Linked DNA regions of Homo sapiens. The protein of the gene in region 1 interacts with the protein of each later gene in a pairwise test. Each region holds a gene or a part of one and is shown on either strand. Other genes may lie near its edges.

Region 1 (7,132 bases):
AGACAAGCATGAAAGGGGCCATCTGCAGGGTCATTTGCAGTGACACTAATAATGCAAGGTCCAGCCCCAGCATGCATCCGGACCTAGAACTGAACAGCAAAACCTAGGCAAGCTCCCCACCTTCTAGATCAGTTCCCAAACTTTCAGGAAACTGTTGAAAGCATAGGTGTAATAGAGATTCTAGAGGCCCACCTTCAAAGGATCTGCTTCAGGGGGTCTCCAGTGAGACCCAGAACTCTACACTTATAGGTGACACTCCCAGGTAATTCTAGAGAGCCTGGAACCTACAAGGCCTCTACCCTGATCTCCCACCTGCTCCCCTATGAAAGCTTGTCAGTGAGACAGAAGAAGCACCAGAAGCCCCCAGCGAGAGCCCGACATTGGAATACCTAGCTTCTCAGGATCCACTGGGCCTCCCACTATGGCCTCAAGCCAGCATCACTGGCTTTTCTTCTTCCCAGCAGGGAACAGCAGGCACAGAGTCAGAAGTGGGAAGTGCAGCTGGACGCCTGCACCACTGCCTGGTCTCTGCCCCTTCTCTCCTCCCCTTCCCCAGCAACACCCCTGTGTCCCCAAGGTCACCAGAATCAGGTGGAAACTGGGTTACATCACAGGACTGGGGAGGCAGCCTTTGTTGGGCCTGCTCTGATAACATTCAAGTGCTGGCCTTGGCCACTGTGGAGGAGGGGCAGAAACAGAGGGACTAGGCACACTGTCCACACCTCACGACCCCGACAGGAGCAGACAGGTGCTGGGAAACAGTTCTTTCTGAATCTCAATCTCTTGCTCTTATATCCTTTTTTGGGGGGGGTGGGGGGCTGGGGGGCAGGGGAAGACAGTGTCTTGCTCTGTTGCCCAGGCTGGAGTGCAGTGGCGTGGTCACAGCTCACTGCAGCCTCCAACTCCTAGGCTCAAGCCATCCTCCTACCTTAGCTGCCTGAGTAGCTGGGACTACAGGCACGTGCCACCATGCCAAGCTAATTTTTAAAATTTTTTTTGTAGATACCGGGTCTTGCTTTGTTGCCCAGGCTGGTCTTCAACTTCTGGGCTCAAGCAATCCTCCCACCTTGGCCTCCCAAAGTGCTGGGATTACAGGCATGAGCCTTATTGCACGCAGTCTTCCTTCTCTCTCTCTTTTTTTCTAATACAAACTGGCAGATGATGGTTCGATCTCTCGAATTTTTTTTTTTATTTTATTGTTTTATTTACTTTAGTAGAGACAGGGGTCTCACTTTGTTGCCTGGGCTGGTTTTGAACTCCTGGCCTCAAGCAATCCTCCTACCTCAGCCTCCCAAAGTGCTGGGATTACAGGTGTGAGCCGCCGAACCTGGCCTCTTTTTTTTTTTTTTTTTAAAGATTTGAAGGTATCTTTATTTACTTATTTAGATTTTTTAAATCGAGGTATAACATATACAAGTGTGCAAATCTTAACCACACAGCTTGATAAACACTTGATGTATATACGTGCACTCTCAAGAGCAAGATGTACAGTGTTTCCAGAAAGCTCCCTCCTGCCTCCTTCCAGTCATAACTCCTAACAAGGACAGCCACTGTCCTTATTACCATGTTGTCATGTGGCCTGTTTTTGAATGTCACATAAACAGCATCATATAGAATGTACCCTTTTGTGTCTGGTTTCTTTCACTCAATAATATTAAATTGTGAGTTTTTTTTTAATGTGAAGTCTTTCAACGTTTAGAAATTCAATGACACTCTGTTATACAGGTTTTGTTTGTTTGTTTGTTTATTGAGACAGAGTTTTGCTCTTGTTGCCCAGGCTGGAGTGCAGTGGTGCAATCAGGCTCACTGCCACCTCCACCTCCCGGATTCAAGTGATTCTCCTGCCTCAGCCTCCCAAGTAGCTGAGGTTACAGGCGCCTGCCACCACACCGGCTAATTTTTTGTATTTTTAGTAGAGAGGCGGTTTCATCATGTGGGCCAGGCTGGTCTCAAACTCCTGACCTCGAGTGATCTACCCACTCTGGTCTCCCAAAGTGCTGGGATTACAGGTGTGAGCCACCGCGCCCAGCCTGTTACACAGTTAATGAATATTATGGTCATAATATACTGCTGTGGTTTGAATGTATCCTCCTAATTTCATGTGTTGGAAACGTAACCCCCAATGGGGCAGTATTGAAAGTTGGCTGTAGCCTACGCCTATAATCCCAGCACTTTGGGAGGTCAAGACTGGAGGATCGCTTGAAGCCAGGAGTTCAAGACCAGCCTAGGCAACAAAGCTACAAACCATCTTACCAGCAAATTAAAAACTAAAAAATAAATTAGCTGGGCCTGGTGGTGCACGTCTGTAATCCCAGCTACTTGGGAGGCCGAGGCAGGAGGATCTCTTGAGCCCAGGAGGTGGCGGCTGCAGTGAGCTGAGATCCATCACTGAACTCCAGCCTGGGCTCAGAGCGAGCCTCTGTCAATCGATCAATCAATCAATCAATCAGTGTCTTGTCTGGGCCTAAATTCTCTAGAATACAATGGAAGAGGGAAAGTGAAAGAAGGTGGAAGTAACCCACAGCTGGGAGCCCTGAACCCTGCTGGTGGCAGGTGGCTCTCGTGTCCTCACCAGGTTGCCCTGCAATCACATGCTGCATCCTTTTTCCTGAACCTGCCCCACGTGCCCCACCACGCAGCCACTCCGAGGGCTCCTTCAAGGGCGGCAGCCCTGTCACTCACGTGTTCCAAAAGTGCTTCCCCTGTGCCCTGACGGCCTCGCCATGTGTCCCATCATGCCCCACGCGCTCCCACTGTGCGCCCCACCTCGCACCCGTGCCCCATCATGCTCTGCGTGCTCGTTAGGTGCCCCATCATTTCCCGCTCGCTCTCATTACGTACCCAGCCTCCGGCCCCTGTAAGTGCCCCATCGTGCTCTCTGTCGCTCCAGTTAGATGCCCCATCCTGCCCCGCGAGCTCCAATTACGTGCCCCACCTAACCCCCCATGTCCGTGCCCCATCATGCCCCGCACGCTCTGGTTACATGCCCCGCCTGGCGCTCCCGCACATGCCCCATCATGCTCAGCGCGCTCCCATTACGTGCCGCCACCTCGCGCCCCTGCAAGTGCCCAATGTGCCCTGTGTGGTCCCGTTACGTGTCCCATCATGTTTTGTGCGCTCCGATTACGGGCCACACCTGGCAACTCACCGTGCGACCTCTGTAGTTCCAGAGCTCGCGAGGGCCAGGGCCGTTGGCGGCGGTTGGAACGAAACGATGAGTGCCTCCTCGTGGCCCCAGAATGGAATGCCGCCGTCGGTAGGGGTCTGCCGGGCATAAAGGGGCCTTCGGAACCCCACCAGAGTCACAGCCAGGAAGGGCAGCGGGGCGCACCAGGCCGAAGGCTCACGCCACAGGGAGGGCAGCTAGGACATGGGGGGAAGCGCGTTAAACCAGGGAGTCCTGGAAGGGGACGACGCCCCCGGCCAGGTGAGGGCCCAGACGTGGGGGCGTAGACGCTGAGGGGTGGCCGGGTGGGTCTGCGGCTCTGAGGCCTGGCTTTCATTCTCCATCAGTCCCTGTACGAGCGGTTAAGTCAGAGGATGCTGGACATCTCGGGGGACCGGGGCGTGCTGAAGGACGTCATCCGAGAAGGAGCTGGAGACCTAGTGGCGCCTGATGCTTCGGTGCTAGGTACGCCCTGGGGCGGTTTGTCCGCAGGATCCATGTCATCGCACTCTGTTGGGAAGAGAGAGGCCTCATTTTCAAAAAGCATTTAATGGGGTTGGAAATGCTTTGTTTGAAGTGGATTTTTGTTTTTGAAACGGGGTCTCGCTCAGTTCCCCAGGCTGGAGTGCAGTGGTGCGAACATAGCTCACTGCAGCCTCTGCTTCCTGGGCTCAAGTGATTCTCCAGCCTCAGCCTCCCAAATAAGAGATTTACAGGCGCAATCCACCATGCCCGGCTAATTTTTAATATTTTTGTAGAGATGGGGCACTTTCTATGTTGCCCAGGCTGGTCTCAGACTCCTGGTCCCAAGTGATCCTCCCACCTCAGCCTCCCCAGTAGCTGGGATTACAAGCGTGAGCCGCTGCTTCTGCCATGAATTAGTTTTTTTAAGAGGAAAGCTAAGGACCCCTATGTCCCCTTTGCGTGATGCTTCCATGAAGCTCTTGAACCTCTGAGCCGAAGGGCAGGCTCCTAAAATGCAGAGAGATTTATTCCTGTACCTCGTGGTGTCGGGCAGCTTAAGCTCATCTGATCGCATTGTTTCTGTGTGATCATGAGAGACTCGATATTATGGAGGCGTGGGTGTTTTGGGTCCATTTTCCTTACATTCTTTCCTCTATTCTAGTGAAATAGTATGGATACCTGGAACACTTGGACAGACCCTTCGATTCTAATTACTTTAGGAAAACTCCTCGGCTAATGAAACTTGGAGAGGGTAAATTCAGAGTAGGAGCTGGAGAAGAAGGGATTGTTTAGGAGCGAGATGAGGCACCATGCCTCAGGCTGGGAAGACTGCTCAGAGCGCAGGTTCTTTGAATTGACTTTGCTGAGGCTGGGTTTTGGTAAAACAGCCATGTTCTCTCCCCTTGAGACCTAGGCATTTGGGAGATGGCTTAATGGGCAAGGTATAATCTTTGCACTCTGACTTAACTCACCACTGGGAATGTTTCTTTGTTCATTTATTAAGTAAAAATCGACGAATGCTTACTTCCCACAATACATGGTGAAAAGAGAGGTTGTACTCAGAAGATTAGAACATCTCCACCCTTAAGGACCTCACAATGTAGTAGAGGAGACTGACCTGCACTCAGCTCACTTGGTAGAATCGGATGAGTGCCTGGGAGGTGAAAGCAGTGTTGTGGGTGTGCTTAATGAAGGCATGATTAATTCTAGCTGGGAAGTTCAGGGAAGGCTTCCTGGAAGAGGGGGCATTTGAACTGAGCCCAGAAGTTTGAATAAAATTTCTATCACTAGAAGCTGGGCACAGGCTCAGGAGGAAGACATTGCAGGAAGAGGGAACTGTGTGAGGGAGACATGGAGGCCAGAGTACTGCTGACTTAGAGGGGGAAGAAACTGATAGCATTAAGCAGGATACTGAGCAAGCTTCACCCACCTTCTTTGTCCCTTCTTACAGATATTACATTGTGGGGCATGGAGCTGGGCCTTCTGAGCATGCAGAGAGGAGAGCTGGCCAGGTTTCTGTTCAAACCGAACTACGCCTATGGAACGCTGGGCTCCCCTCCCTTGATCCCCCCAAACACCACTGTCCTGTTCAAGATTGAGCTGCTTGACTTCCTAGACTGTGCTGAGTCAGACAAGTTTTGTGCTCTCTCAGCTGTACGTTGCAGAGCACAAATGTCAGCACTTTATAGAGAGACAAATGGGTTGGTGTTTTTGGTAATTCTTCTAGATGGCCTGCCCTGAGGCTGATCGTCCGCCACTGCACTCCAGCATGGGCAACAGAGCAAGACTCCATCTCAAAAAAAAAAAAAAAGCCAGCTGGGATTTTTTTTTTGAGACATGACCTTGCACTGTTGCCCAGGCCGGAGAGCAGTGATGTGATCATAGCCCACTGCAGCCTCAAACTCCTGGGCTCAAGCGATCCTCCTTCCTCAGCCTCCTGGGTAGCTGGGACTACAGGCTGGCACCACAACGCCTGGCTAATTTCTATATTTTTTGTAGAGATCATGTTGCCAGGCTGGTCTCAAATTTCTCGGCTCAAGCAATCCTCCCACCTTGGCTCTTGAAGTGCCAGGATTACAGAAGTGAGCCGCCACACCCAGCCACAGCTGGGATTTTGATAGGGATTGTGTTGAATCTGTAGATCACTTCTGAAGTAATGAAATTTTAATAATATTAAGTCTTTTAATCCATGAACATGATTTCCTTCCATTTATTTAGGTCTTCTTTAGTTTCTTTCAATGATGTTTATAGTTTCTTTTTCTTTTGGAGATGGAGTCTTGCTCTGTCACCCAGGCTGGAGTGCAGTGGCATGATCTCGGCTCACTGTAACCTCTGCCTCTCGGGTTCAAGTGATCCTTGTGCCTCAGCCTCCCGAGTAGCTGGGATTACAGGTGCACTGTACCCGGCTAATATTTGTATTTTTAGTAGAGAAGGGGTTTCACCATATTGACCAGGCTGGTCTCGAACTCCTGACCACAGATGATCCGCCCACCTCGGCCTCCCAAAGCGCTTGGTTTACAGGCGTGAGCCACTGCGCCCAGCCTTATCTTTTCTTCCACACAGATGCTTCGTCTTGGGTAAACTCCTCGACTCCCAAGGCCCCAGCCTCCATCTTTACCTCAGAGCCTCCTGAACCTCCTCCTCCAGCCTCACCTTCCTCCAGCCTCACCACTCCTCCCTGGACCTGCAGCTCCGCACCCCCGGGGGCCTCAGAACTACCCCTTCCAGGGCCTCAGAACTACCCCTACGGTTTCTCCTGCGTAACCTTCTGCCTACCTTCCTGAGAGTGGTTGGTGACAGCAGCCGGGGCTAGAAACCTCGAGGCGACTGTGCTTGAGTCCTCTCTTGCTCTTTACATCCCAAATCCCATCAATTGTCACGCCTTGTGCCTTCCGCCTCTCAAATATTCAGAAAGCAGATGTATGCTGGGCACGGTGGTGACTCAAGCCTATAATCCCAGCACTTCGGAAGGCGGAGGCAGGAGGATCGCTTGAGGCCAGGAATTTTAGACCAGCCGGGGCAACATAGTGAAACCCCATCTCTACAAAATAAAAATAAAAATTAGCTGGGCGTGGTGGCGTGTGCCTGTAGTTTCAGCTACTGGAGAGGCTGAAGCGGGAGGATCACTTGAGCCCGGAGTTCAAGGCTGCAGTGGGCTATAGTCGTGCCACTTCACTCCAGTCTGGGCAACAGAGCAAGATCCTGTTTAAAAAAAAAAAAAAAGCAGATCTAAAGAGGGGCCTGGCGTGGTGGCTCACGCCTGTAATTCCAGCACTTTGGGAGGACAAGGCGGGCAAATCACCTGAGGTCAGGAGTTCAAGACCAACCTGGCCAACATGGTGAAACCCCATCTCTACTAAAAAATACAAAAATTAGCCAGGCGTGGTGGTGGATTCCTGTAACCCCAGCTACTCGGGAGGCTGAGGCAGGGAGAATCGCTTGAACCCAGGAGGCAGAGGTTGCAGTGAGCCAAGATCGTGCCACTGCATTCCAGCCTGGGCA
Region 2 (7,329 bases), on another chromosome or scaffold:
GAGCTGAGATCGAGCCACTGTACTCCAGCCCGGGTGACAGAGTGACACTCCGTGTCAAAAAAAAAAAAATTTATTAACATGGGCTGGCGCGATGGCTCATGCCTGTAATCCCAGCACTTTGGGAGGCCAAGGCAGGTGGATCACGAGTTCAGGAGTTCGAGACCTGCCTGGCCAACATGGTGAAGCCCCGTCTCTACTAAAAATACAAAAAATTAGCTGGGCGTGGTCGTGGGCACCTGTAATCCTAGCTACTCGGGAGGCTGAGGCAGAAGAATTGCTTGAACCCGGAAGGTGGACATTGCAGTGGGCCGAGATCGTGGCACTCTGCACTCCAGCCTGAGCGACAAAGCGAGACCCAGTCTCAAACAAACAAACAAACAAACAAAAACCAAAAAAACCAAAAAACAATCAGTAACAAGATGACAACTCAATTAAAAAAATAGGCAAAATATTTGAAAGACATTTTACAAAAGAAGATATATGGATAGTCAACAAGCACATGAAAAGATGCTTCATATCGTCAGTCATCAGGAAAATGCAAATGAAAGCTGTAATAAGATACCACTTAAAATCCAGCTGAATGACTACAATGAATAAGACAGATCATAAGGAGTGTTGGTGAGGATGTGGACAAATTGGAACCCTCATACACTCTGGTGGAAATGTAAAATGGGAAATTCACCTTGGAAAGCAGTTGTGCAACACCTTGAAAAGTTACACCCAGAGTTACCATATGACAGTAATTCCACTCGTAGATATACACCCAAGAAAACTGAAAACACACGTTCATACAAAAACTTGTACCCATCTTCATAGCAGCATTATTCATAATGCTAAATACTGTACTGTATTTACTGTAATACAATTACAATTAGTACAATTAAACACTATATTTAAATACTAGAAGAAATCCAAATGTCTGTTAATTGGTACTGTTAAATAAAATGTGGATTATTACTTAGCAATAAAAAGGAATGAAGTAATGAGACATACTACAACATGGATGAACCTCAAAAACATTATGCTAAGTAAAAGAAACTAGATGCAAAGGATCGCATAATGTGTAATTCCACTTACATGCCCAGAAAAGGTAAATTTATAGACAGAAAGTTTTTTAGTGATTGGGGCTGGGGATAGGAAACCAGGACTTGCCTGCAAATGGGCACAAAGTATTTTTTTAGGATGATGAAAATTTTCTAAATTTTCTAGGATGATGAAAATTTTCTAAATTTTCTAGGATGATGAAAATTTTCTAAATTTTCTAGGATGATGAAAATTTTCTAAAATTGGAATGTGGTGATGGTTGTGATTTTCTAAAACAATCATTGAGTTATATCCTTAAGACAAATGAACTTTATAATATATAAATTATACTTCATTAAAGCTGTTAAAAATAGCTATGAAACCACAACGCAGTTTTATGTGTAATTCTGGTTTTTATACATATTATGACAAGACTTTTATAAAGACGGGGCAACCATGACTCCCCAAGACAGTGTGGCAGCGGTCCCCAAAAATCTTAAAGAAGTAAACTCAATGCTTTCGAAGACTACAAAGAAGTGCATCAAAATTTATATTATTCAACAATGATAAGGTAAATGTATTCGGGTAAGAAGCATGGTTACTAACCTGTGTGCCAGTATTTACACAGCATGGGGCCCCTTAGCTTCTGGTCTCTGCTCTGGTCTAGCCATCTTAAATTCCACTGTCAGTTTTATTGTCTTCAAATATTACTTTCATAAGGGGTGCCTCCTGTTCCAAACACAGGACCCAAACCCCTGATTTTGGGAATTCCGGCTCTTTATATTTCTCATGCTGCTTTTTAAAATTTGTAACCAAAGTTTCCAAATGAACCTTCTGCCGCAGTCAGAACCAACTCTTCCTCAGGCTGCATGTATTTGCTAACAACTCACTCACTAGTAGGGATGCCACTTCCCTTATTTTTCTCTCTGAAATTCTGCCCATTGCTCAGGCCCAAATTGAGTCTTACCCATACTGTGAAGCCTTCTCTGAATAATTCATCTCACATTGAGCTGAGCTCCTGAAGCACCTGTGCTCTACAACAGTCATCCGGGCATTAAGAACTGTTCAGAAGTTTTAGTTTAAATGTTCTGAGCCTCATTTGTCCCTGCTCTTGAGGGGCTGGATTTTATTACTTTATATTCCCCTATATGGATTAACACAGGCAACTTAAGAAATAGTCATGTTCATCAACGTTTCCTTGATAAATTCTTTTGTATTTGTTTTAATTAAAAATGTCATTTTTGAAATATGATTGCTGGATTTTTTTGAGAATTTACCCTTACATGCTGATTCTGCTTCAGGTATCTGTAGTATGTTTTGTTCAGCCATTAGCAGATCTGTCCCTGGAATCCCTAATCCACAAATATACACAAAATTTGGGTTCAAGCAACTCTATTTTCTCCTATATCTTTTAATAGATATATTATCTATTATGCCAGGTATGACAATATATAAACAAAAATATCCATATAAAAATTACAATATTACTAAATGTCCTTCTAAATCCACACTTAAGCAACAATAACGAAGCACAGTTTCTTAAAGTAGAAAATGATCTATAGTTAATCTTATTATCTTGCCTCCTTTACCTTTCAAAAATCCACTGATAATCTGGGCATGATGCTTTCAAACTTCACCCTAAAGAGAAAAATGCTCTCTGAACACTCTTCTTCCTGCTGTCTTTAAATTGTGCCTGTATTTTCTCTGCTTTTCCTTTGACACTCAATCACTCCTTTAAAACTTGTAAAAAACCGGAAAAGTTTCTGTAACTCTCCAATCTCCAACTATGTCGTAAAATCCCTTGCCAGTTTACCCAGTCTGCTGGAGAGGCTCACCGTTTCTTTTTCGAGCGAATTACACAGTTGTCTTGGCAGCGTGATTTGCCCTCTGGTTCCTGCTTTATCAGTTTGGTGATTCTTTGTACAGATTGATAACCATGAAAAAGTCTAAAGTAGGGCAGTTCCGGAGCAGCCTTTTCCCATAAAGCAAGCGGGTACCTCACAAAACTCCAGGCAAAAGAATGAATGATAGAGCACTCACCAATAGCGAGTGGAGAAGAGTATTTTGTCGAAGTTTGCAAACCAATCTTTGGGAGCCAGAGGTGGGAATTTTAAAATGAGGTCTTTTCCTTGGAATTTTCTTAAAGTGGTATCGTTGCCTGTTGATATTGAAGTTTGTCAAAGAACGTGAAATCACCAGCTTAGAGGATTTTTTTCCCCTTTAAGAGAGACAAAACGTGCGAATTGATTCTCTACAAATTGTGAGAACTTCAAGAGTGGGGTCATAAAGTATTATCAAATATAATCACTTGGTAACTTTTGTGTCAATGTGGGGAGGAGGTGAAGGTTATTTTAACATGATTCATTTTTCATGATCAAATATCAGATATTAATCACTGAAAAACAGTATTCCCCATTAAAAAAAAGAAATGAAAACTAAGAGGCTAACATTGTTTTCAAAAAACTGTTCTACTGTTAATCTTTTTTCTTTTTTGGGGGGTGTAACTCTTCATATATTAGCAGCAAGTCTTATTATTTGGGCTGACCATTAAACACCGTATCTTTGTTTTTACACAAAATGTGGATTTCCTCATTTTAAGACCAGCAAAAAATTTCTGAGTGCCACGAATTCTTAGGTATTCCGAAACTATCTTAGAAATACATGACATATACCAACCATGCTGTATACCTGAATAGCTCTTGAAGACCAGATTTAATAGATAACTGATAATTTTTATTATAACTCATACCTTGTTTTAAAACCAATGTTTTTTATTTAATATAACTCTGCTTTCTAGGTTATTCGTCTCTATGAATAATTAAGTCAGCAACTGTAAAAACTACTTCATTATAAAGTTAAAGTTCCTTGACAAGGAGCCTCGCAAACTCATAGACAGGCTTTCCACAGAACAAAAAATATCAGCGGTTGTAGTAGAGGATTATACTTTAAAATCTTCATTTCAGAAGGAAATTTGTCATATTAATGAGACACTTTAAAAAGTGTCTTTTAAAAATGTTTCCGAACTATGCTTCCAAGTATTTTTAACAGCATAAAGCCCTCTTTCATGCTATTTCGCTGACATAATAATTTTCGTCTTGAAGAAATACATATTGACGGCCTACTCAGTCAGGCTAGGAAGTGTCATTGTATTTAACTCTCTAAATTGTTCCTGACCTTTTTAGCAATCTTTACTCAAAATAAACCTTGGGTGTTTGAAGGGCAGAGACTAGGTTACGTCCTCCTCATCTTTGTTATCTACCAGTTCGTAGTGACCCCTTAAATCCGGTGCTTAGACTCACTACTTGCTAAATAACGTTGGCTTCGTTACATAAACCCACTGGCCTGTTTTTCAACGGTCAGACTGGCGCTGTTAGTCCCTGTGTCATGGGATTGCTGTCAAGGGTTCAACGAGATAATCTATAAACAGCTCTTAGAACGAACGCTCAACGTGGGATCATTGTTGTAATCCCTCAACGTGTGCTCTGAATGAGAAGCCGAGTGACTGAATGAATGTATGAATGAAGGAACAGGTCAGTAACTGGCGGTTCCCGAAGTTGGAGCCGACTAAATTACCCCTTCAAGACGCTAAGCAAAAGCCACTCCGTCGACATCAAACCCCACGCCGGAGCCGGAAGCAAGAGTAGAGCCGCGGGCGGGGCCAGCATAGAGGAAGTAGCGCTCTCGGCCAATACACAGATCGCTTGGCAAACGAGCATTTTCCCGCGCCTATCGTGAAAGCGCGAGAACACAGGGGATTATCGCGAGGTTCCGTGCTCCTCTCCCGCTCCCTCTTCCCCAGCTCCCTCTGGCGCGGGTTCCGCTCCACCCCCGGAGCCCCGCCCCCGACGCCCGGCGCTCCGCCCCGCCCTCGCCTGGCTCCCTGCCCCGCCCCGCCCGCCGTCCCCCGCTTGGCTTCCAGCGCCGCTTGCGCTCCGGAGCGCTGGCTCTGCTGGCGCTGAGGTGAGTAGAGCTGTCCGCCTCGTCGGGTGATTCAAGTGGCGAGGCTCTCTGACCCGGCCCCCCGGCGGGGACGCCCCAGACGTGGTCCTGCCAAAGCGTCCGGGTCGCGGCGAGTGGGACAGCGGAGCCGTCCGGGCCTCGGGTGGCCACAGCTGCCGGGTCCTCCTCCCACTCTGCGGCCCGCGGCCCCTGGGACCCGAGAACCCTGATACCGGGTCCGTGAAATCCCTGCTGCTGGGCTCGCTGCTTCCCAACTGTAACGATCTCAGTGGCTGGCTAACTCGGGCGAAACGGCGTGTGTTTTGCCTAAGACTCTGCCAGTGTTTGTTACCACAGCTGAGAAAATAGCCTTTTACAAATGCTTTTAATATGTAGCTTATAGTTCTCTAATCTCCAGCGTTAGGAAATTGGAATGCGTATTCTACTAAATTGAGTACGGGGAGGTCAGTATAAGGGACTCCTTCCTTTCAAAATACTCCTTAATATGTGTGGAATTTTGTTGAGAGGTTTTTGATTTTTTTGTTTTGTTTTTAATAATAAGATAGATTGGTGTTCACCTGTCAGAAAGCTCGTGTGTAAGTGCAGCTGTATACAGCTGATATTAAGTAATACTATTTGCCTTAACTACATAAGAGGTAGTATAACTATACAAGAGGTAGTTTGCTTAACTAGGTAAGATGTAGTCAAGTGAAATGGGGTAAGAAAATTACCTTGTTAAAGGCTGTGTATGGCCCGTGAATGCATACTGCAAAACTGTGAGCATTGTTGATGCTTTATTGCTATTATTGGCAGTTTTAGGATTTCATTTGTTTAGATTTTATCTCCCAAACAGCCTTTGTAGCAATTTTAACAGAGTGTAATGGTGTTTTTGAGGCAGCCAATCCCAGCCAGAACATTCAGAAGGAAAGCCGTCAGGTTACAGGGACTGTCTTATTGAATCTTCCTTCAGTGAGTGTGGTTTTGCATTATAGGGCGGCGGTGCACACGCTTTGTAGTCAGTCCACCTGCGATGGAACTATGGCATGTTACCCTCTGAGAAACTCAGTTTCCTCCTCTACAAAACGGGCTACATAATGTCTATTGCAGTGCATGGTTGTAAAGATTAGACATCCTTGTGGCATGTAGCAAGCTTATAGGCTCTATCCGTGGTCTTGACATAGTTGGATGAAAAATCAACCTTGCAATGTTCTTCCACATGTCATCAGATATTAGAAGGCCTACTTTAAAATTTTAAGTCCCTGGATACATGTGCAGAATATGCCGGTTTGTTACATAGGTAAACGTGTGCCATGGTGATTTGCTGCACCTGTCAACCCATCACCTAGGTTTTAGGAAGGGTTACTTTTAGTTACTGTGCTAGATGCAGGTATGCAAGCGTGAAGAAAACAACGCAGTCCCTGCCCTCAGGATTTCTAAATAAGTTTCGGAAGGGTTTATTTACAGGCTTTTTGGCTTTATTGACAATAGACAGATGCAACGATAAATATTTAAGTGACAAATTGTGAGGAGTCCTACGAAGAAAAAACAAACAGCCAAGTTCCTCTGAAAGAACACCAGGGGAATTACTTTGGGATAGGGAAGTGATTTTTTTTTTTTTAAGACTGAGTCTCGCTCTGTCGCTCAGGTTGGAGTGCAGTGGTGCGATCTCGGTTTACTGCAAGCTCCGCCTCCCGGTTTCAAGAGATTCTCCTGCCTCAGTCTCCCGAGTAGCTGGGATTACAGGCGCCCGCCACCAAACCCAGCTAATTTTTGTATTTTTAGTAGAGATGGGGTTTCGCCAAGTTGGCCAGGCTGGTCTCGAACTCCTCACCTCAGGTGATCCACCCTCCTCGGCCTCCCAAAGTGCTAGGATTACAGGCGTGAGCCACTGCGCCCGGTCTCAGGAAGTAATTTTTATGTTGAAATCTGGAGAATGATGGGACATTGCTTTCTAGGCTAAGAGGAGACCAGCAAGTGCTGTTAGGGGTTTAGTAGCTTTGAGGATTGGAAAAGCCCAGAAGCTTGGTGAGAAGCCAAGCAGAGTTGCTGGAGAAGTGGGTGGGGGCAGATGGTGAGGCACCCTCAAGGCCTAGTATGAGTTGATTTTCTAAGTAAGAAGTTTCTGAAGGGTTTATTTAGTAAGATGTGTACCGAAAAGAGTGAGATGTAATTGGATGTACATTTTTAAAGGCCCATTGCTGGGATTAATGTGTTGGAAGTGACTAGAGTGGACACAGGGAGACTGGTAATACTGTTGGCCAGGCAGGAGATGACTGTGGCTTGTGGTTTTGGCAGATGGAGAGATTTGGATGGATTTGAGATGTATTTGGGAGATAGAGGCCACTAGCCTTGTGATAGATTGGAGGT
Region 3 (7,033 bases), on another chromosome or scaffold:
TGGAAGCATTTGTAGTTGTAGGGTTTGCCCCAGGGCCGCGGGATGTAGTGTGGCTTCTTGGGCTTCCGAGACCGCGCCCTCGCCCCTGTGCCCACGCGGCATGAGCCCGCCTCCCGCGACATGGCAGCCTGCTATGAGGCAGGGCCGGGCACCATGGCCACCTGTAGATGGGGCCACAGTCAGTGCCAAGCCTGCCTCTGACTAACTCCCCACTCCTCTCCATCCATGGCTCCCCAGGCTCCAGGGACTGGAGCCTGGGTGCTCCCCCCACCCCGCCGCCTCTGCCCTGCAACGTGCCCCCCGAGCCCCATCCTTCGGCTCCTCCCCACGTGCACTTCCAGGGTGGCAGCAAAGTCCAGGGCACCAAAAAAAAAAAAAAAAGTCCAGGACAGCGAGCTGCATCTGACGCCGATCAGCAGCACGTCATTTCTGAGTGTTAAGTGTAGCCTAGGCAATATTGGAAAGGCACACTAGAAAGGTGTTCATTGTTTATCGGAAATTCGATTTTAACTAGGCGTCCTTTATTTTATCGGTTGACCCTACACACATCCCCACCCCTGAGGCCAGGCCGACTTGCTGGCCAATTTCTAGGATAGTTCAGCCCACACCCATCTCCCCACAGCATGTGAGTGGCTAAAAGAATCAGCGTGACCAGAGCTCACTTCGGGTGGACGTCAGCCTCCTGGTCTCATTCCCTCCAGCAACCCTGGCCCCTGCCAATCTGCCTGTTCAAAGCCTAGGAAAAGGCACTGAGATGAGACACCAACGGAAGGGTCTGTGTGGGATGATGCTGCGTGTGTGTGTGTGTGCCTGTGTGTGTCTGTGTGTGTGCATGTGTGCGTGTGCATGCACGTGTGTGTGCGTGCATGTGCGTGTGTGTGCACACGTGTGTGCGCCTGTGTGTGCATGTGCCTCTGTGCATGCTTGTGTTCATGTGCACGTGTGTGCATTGTGTGTGCATGTGTGCATGCATGCATGTGTGAGTGCGTGTGTATGCGTGTGTGTCTAAAGGCGGCACAGAGCCTGCTCTAGCAGGGCGTCAGGTGGGCACTGGGGGTCTCTTAGGGGGTCAGTCTCATGTGGGGCCAGGCCAGGCTGTGGGGAGTGGACGTCCCAGCATGGCCCCACGGCTCAGCCACCTGCTCAGCCCAGCTCCATCTGGGTGGCTTCGGGCAGGTCAGCGGCCGAGCCTGCAGCGGCCACACTCAGCCAAGACCCGCTCCTCCCCACGCCCCACACGGCGCTGGTATGCGCGCCACACTCCATCTGGGCCGCCACCTGGGCTGTCCACCGCCCCAGCACGCGCCTGTGTGGGGTGCACAGCACGCCTGCGCACACGGGCTTTGGGTGTGTGTACACAGCCCACAGGCTCACACAGAGCCCTCACCCAGTGCCCGGAGAAGCCACCTCTGTGCCACCTAAGCTCAGAACGGAGTCTGCCACCAAGTGCGGGGCCCTGGCTGCACACACCTCACACTCCATCACGGTGAACACGGCTGCTTGTCCGTGATAACACACTCACCACCCATCCAGGTGTGGGGGGGCTTTCCAAACCACTCCAACACGGCACTCACATGCTCACACAGGCCCTACACACCGACTCCCCAGGACACACGCAGACCTGGCTGGGGGTCGCACCCGTGGTCATGCATGGCCAGTGGGTTGAGCAGGGTAGGGCTGGGGCACTGCTGTCTGCTGCCCCCAAAACACTGTGTTGGTGCCGTTGGGGGGACGACCAACAGGGCTGGAGAAGTCCACTCGTCCAAAGGCTTGGGGCCCTGCAGGGCAGTCACGGGCTGCAGGGGCAGGCAGAGGCTGACCAGCTGGTCTGTGGCTGAGACAGGGTGGCGGTCGGGAGGCAGGGGCTGGGCCAGGAGAGGTCCTGGGGCTCCCCGAGGGGCTGCAGACCCGGCCTGGACTGGGTGGTGGGTGCAGAGGCGGCCCCTTCTCCCTGCCCGCCGCCCCCCCCACCCATGTGGATGACAAATGGGTGTGGGCGCTCCGGCGACAGAGGCGGCTGTGCCGGGCCATCGATCACCCAGCCCTGGGAGCCACACAGCTGTGCCAGCCGATGCCACAACCCATCCCGCCTCCCAGCAGGGACCGGGGGCTCCCGGGTCAGGGGCTTGTCCAAGGGGCTGTCTCAGCAGCTGCTGACCCCTTGGGGACCCGGAGGATAGCTGGCACCCACCTGGTGTGTGTACACAGAGCAAAAGACACCCCTGGACAGCAGCCACACGCACACACAAACGCATACGCACTCACACGCGCGTCCCAGCCGGACCCGGCAATCGCTCCCGGGGCAGCCAGCAGCCCTGTGCCAGGCCCCGACACCCGGCCCCACTCACCTGTCCCTGTTTGGGGGAGAGCTGGGGGAGAACCGGTGGCACGGGGGGCACAGGCACCCCCACAGGGCAGGAGGGGGCACCCAGCAGCCGGGGACCCTGATCGGCCACCCGCAGATCCTGCTGCCCCCCCCCCCGGGAACGCAGGGCGCCCCACACAGGCGGGTGCGGCGAGCGCGAGGTCAGGCGTCTGCCCCAGACCCCAGACCCGGCCCCTGCCCTCCCCGCCTGGCCCCTGAGGGCGGCCCTCCCTCCCCCCGCGCTGCTCCTGGACTTCGAGAAGAGGGTGGGGGGGACCCGGCCGCCCCCCGCGCCCCCCACACGCCTGGCCACCCGCTGCCCCCGCGCCCCGCGTCCAGCCGGCCCCGCGACGCCCAACTGGCCGCCCCCGCGGCTCCCGCCGCTCCTACCTGCGCCCGGCCGGGAGCGGAGCCGCCAAGTCTGCGAGGCCGCGTGTAGGGCGCAAACTTCCCGCCCCTCCCCGCCCCGCGCCGGCCGCGACTCGGACCCCGCGGACGCGCTGGGGCTCTGGGGGTGGGATGCGGCTCCCGTGGGGGAAACTGAGGCCCGGCGCCGGGAGCCGGACCTCCCGGGTCCGCGGTCCCTCGAGCGGCAGCGACTCCCGCAGCCTCCGCCGCCGCCCGCGTCCCCCCGACGCCGCTCGCACCTCCCGAAGTTGGCGGCAGAGGCGGGCGCGCGTGCGCCTGGGCTCCGGGCTCCGGGGGGCGCTGCGACCTCCGACCGCGCTCGCGGCGGGAGGGAAGGAGCAGCCCCCGGCCCGAACCCCGCGCCCCCGCCGCCCGCGCGCCCCCCGCCGCCCCCTGGCGCGCACTCACCGGCCTCGTGCGCCGGGACCGGCTCAGCTCTCGGGGCGCGCGGTGGAGCGGCCGGGAACCCGGGAGGCAGCGGACGGAGAGCGGACTGCGGCGCAGGTGTGCGGCCGAGTCAGGGGCGCCCGGCGCCTCCCGCCCCCGTTGCCCGCAGGCTGCCGCGGGGGTGCACAGAGGCCGCCAGGTCTCCCGGGTCCCCGCCGCGGCGTGATGGGTGTCAGCGGCGCGGGGCGCGGGAGAGGGGCCGTCAGCGCTTATCCATCAGGGCTCTGGCCCCTGACAGCCGCCGGCCCACCCGAGCCAGGGCCCCTGGGGGCTGTCCTGGGGGACAGGGGTGCCGCGGACTGAGCCAGCGGAGCCGGGCTCCCTTCCTTGCCCTCCCTGGGCGAGCCCTGCCCTCCGTTCTCTTTTCCTCTAAACCGGAGGCTGCCCGGACCGGCCCCTCGCACCCCGCCCTGCCGGCTGACCGCCTCCACCTGGGGCTGGTCTCCAGCACCCTCCCCCTTCCTGGATGCGGACCCCTCCAGCCCTCACTCCCGGCTCCTGTGGGAGGTGCCTCAGCGCTGCCCCACGAGGCCACGCACTTCCCTGCTGTTTGAAAGACCCCCTCCCCACGGGAGTCCCCTCCTGAGAGGACCTGGGGCGGTGGAGGAGAGAAGCAGGGCCAGGGCTGCTCCCAGCCCCACCTCCCGGGCTGCACCAAGTTCCAAGCAGCTCCCTGAGCTGCCAGAACGTAAAGGCCTGGAGCCCCACTGCTCAGCTGGGGCCTAGGGGAGGTTCGCCTGACCGGCCTGCTCCCTCCCGGACACAGGCATGGCTGGGGCAGAGCCCCTGACTTCGCTCAGGGGAGACGTCCTAAACCCGACACTTGCGGTAGGCGGGCGTCTCGGGGTCTCCAGCCAGAGGGGAGTGTGCTACTCCCTGCTGACTCTGAAACAGCACAGGGAGCCCGGCCCACATAGCTCCCCAGGACCTGGGGCTCTCTGCAGGCTCAGCCGCAGGCTCCCGGGCTGTCCCCAGCTCAGGTCGGGGTCAGGGGTGCCTTGGGGAAGAAGGGAGGACCCCACGGGGCTTCTGGGTGTCACCCCTCGAATGGGGCAGAGAAGAGAGCTCAGCAGCATCTCCGTGGCCCCGGTCCGGCTGCTGGCAGAGCCCCCTGGTAGAGCACACCCAGGGTCCATGAGGAACAGCCCCTGGTTCTGGGGTGGGCGTGGGGCTCTGTCTCCCTCCTGCCTCCATGCCACCTTCCCTGACACAGCCGCACACGCCCGTCTGAGGGAAGTCCCTGGGGCGGGGCAGGGGACTGGGAGGGGTGCTGTGGATGGCAGAGCATGCCAGCCTTCTCTCTGCCCACCTGGCCTGGCCCAGCTGACCAGCTGACCGTGCAGGCAGCTCCGGGCCGGGAGACAGCTTGGGCTGCCGTCACGCCAGCAGCCCCGTGGAGAGCGGGGGCCAGGAGGCCGGCTGCTTCTGTACATAGACTCTACTCTGGACGTGTTCAGCTGAGCACTGCCCCGGGAGACTAGGGTCCAAGGTCACCCTGACACCAGTAGTCCCTCAGTGGCCAGCCCGAGACTGACCCCTTTGAAGGTCTGGAAGAGGCCACAGCTGACAGCACAGGAGACCAACTGGCTGGAGGCTCTGGCCATTGTCCAGGGGAGGAAAGTAGGGAGCAGGGAGGCCTGGTCTTGGAGCACCTAGATGTCAGCATACAGGAAATAAAGCCCAGTGAAGCTCAGGGGACCAAGGAGCCCCAGAGGGGGAACAAGGCCGTGTCTAGCGCTGAGCAGGCTGAAGGAGCACCTCCACCCCTCACCACCGATGGGCCTTTGCAGAAGTTTGCATGAGAAGAGAAGAGGGGCAGCCTCGAGAGGGGCCCCGGGGCACAACTTGGACGTGTTTCTGGCCTCCCGGAAGGACTCTGGCAGGGAGGATGAGGGGGCCCTGCACCTGCTGGTGGGGGTCCTGAGATTCAGCCGTGCACGAGGTGGGGGGTGAGGAGCATGTGAGGCCAGTACACTGGGTGCCCAGATGACTGTTCCCATCACAAACAGCCAGGCGAGGCCGGGATATCAGTGCCAGCACCCCGCAACCACAGGGCCCCCTGGGCACGTCAGCTTCCTCACTGTGGCCATGACCCACCTGCTTGGTCCCAGCTCTTGCACACTGGGCTGACTTTGGGTTTGGAGAGGTGGCTTCTGCTTCCTGAGGCAGTGACTGGGACTCTGTTTTGGCACCTGTGCCCCCACCCCCCCAACTTTCTGGCCCATGGCCCCCATCTGCAGAATGGGCAGTGGGGTGCTCAGTGTCCGGGCACTTCTGCTCTGGTCCTAGTGGGTGCCCTGATGTCTCCTTAGCCAGTCCCAGTGCAGGGTGGGATGGGGACCCCATGGCCCCTCCTTCTGCCTCCAGCCAGAAGCTCATTTTTGGCCATTAACCTCTTCTGCCCGGTCTGCCCACGGCTGCCCGCCTGTCACCTCCATTAACAATGGGACTCTGTGCCGGGGGCTCACGGGCAGGACGGAGAGCTGGGCTCAGAGAAGGCAGCGGAGGCAGCGCTCGGCATGGCCAGTGCCCGGGGGCAGGCCTGTCTCATCCCCTCAGTGTCGACACACAGCCAGTGTCAGGACAGGTGCAGGGGCCGGGGTGCCTGCACCCACACAGTGAGGGCAGTGTCAGGGCTGCAGCCAGGCTGGAGGCCCCACGCAGGTCCTGAGACCGGGGCAATCTATCCAGCGGCAGCAGGTTGGAGCCCCCACGTGGGGTCAGTACCTTGCAAGGTGTCCGGACACAGCTGATGTCTGTCCTTTCAATAACGGACCCCAGGGCCTGTGGCCACCCTGAGCACTTCAAGAACCCCAGGTCTACAGAGCATAGGCCTCCTGGGGGCTTCCTCCTTGCTGCCCACTTGAGGATCCCTGGTTGAGAGGGGCAGCCCAGCCTTGGCGGAAGGGGTCATGGATACACGTGAGGGCCCTCGGCACCAGCCTGAGGCTGCTGGCCTTGATGGGCGGGTACACAGTGGGGGTGCCAGGGGAGAACGGAGGGGGCTGGGCAACCGAGTGGGCCAGAGCGCCCAGGACAACGGCCCAAGGGTGTGGGGGGCACACGAAGAGCCTGCGGAGCTCTGGGGTCCCTGGGTCCATCCACCTGAGGGAACGGGGGCCCTGTTAGGAGGCGCCTGAATGGGGGCTCCAGGAGTCTTCCGGCTCGAGCACTACCAGGGATAGTCCTCCCCAGCAGCCCTGACCATCCCAGAGTCCACACCAGAGAGTCCCCTCCCCACCCGCCTCCCGGCTCTGGAAGACCCCAGCTGGGCCCTTCCCCATGCACTACACTCTCATAGACGTGCCGGGTCACTGGCCACCCTGGGCCGGGTGCGGGGCTGACCCTCTGTGTGTCCTGAGCCTCTGGGACGGAGGAGGGTACAGGACGCTCCTTGGAGGGCTGAGCTGCTGTGGTGGGAGTGAGCCCCGTCCCAGGAGGCTGGGATGTAGACTGACAGAGGGGGCAGCCAGCCAGGCGGGTGGGACGGGAGGCTGAGGCTGCTCGAGCCCCCACCGGCTCCCGAGCCTGGCACTGGCCAGCAGCGCCCGGGGCCGACAGCAGCCATATGTTGGGAAGAGGAGCTGTGTGTGTCTCTCTGCGGCCCCCGGGGCTGGCCTTCCTGGGCCTGTCACAGATGATTTTCCCCGCCTGAGTGGCAGGCGGGCTGGCGGGCGGGGTGGCGGGGCCTCCAACTGGCAGGTGGGGTGGTGGGGCCCCATGTCCAGCCCCCCCATAGCCCTCAGCACCAGGGCTGGCCACTGTTGGGGTAGATCCGGGTCCTGGGCCTTGGCCTCCCACCCCCCAAAACCT

The links. The genes of interacting proteins can lie anywhere in the genome.
Region 2: the proteins of TRIM74 (region 1) and TTC23 interact in binary tests that used the Homo sapiens proteins (3 or more experiments, as listed by UniProt).
Region 3: the proteins of TRIM74 (region 1) and PRR35 interact in binary tests that used the Homo sapiens proteins (3 or more experiments, as listed by UniProt).

Annotation. Positions count from the first base shown.
Region 1 is NC_000007.14:72,966,444-72,973,575, forward strand, and holds the start of TRIM74 (tripartite motif-containing protein 74), read right to left. Parts: upstream 3,024-7,132; 5' UTR 2,842-3,023; intron 511-2,841; exon of another isoform or gene 390-510; intron 1-389.
Region 2 is NC_000015.10:99,246,559-99,253,887, forward strand, and holds the start of TTC23 (tetratricopeptide repeat protein 23), read right to left. Parts: upstream 3,024-7,329; 5' UTR 2,613-3,023; intron 1,753-2,612; exon of another isoform or gene 1,655-1,752; coding exon of another isoform or gene 1,630-1,654; intron 1-1,629. UniProt on the Homo sapiens protein: Participates positively in the ciliary Hedgehog (Hh) signaling.
Region 3 is NC_000016.10:556,384-563,416, reverse strand, and holds the start of PRR35 (proline-rich protein 35), read right to left. Parts: upstream 3,024-7,033; 5' UTR 2,756-3,023; intron 2,521-2,755; exon of another isoform or gene 1,622-2,520; intron 848-1,621; exon of another isoform or gene 663-847; intron 162-662; 5' UTR 123-161; coding exon 1-122.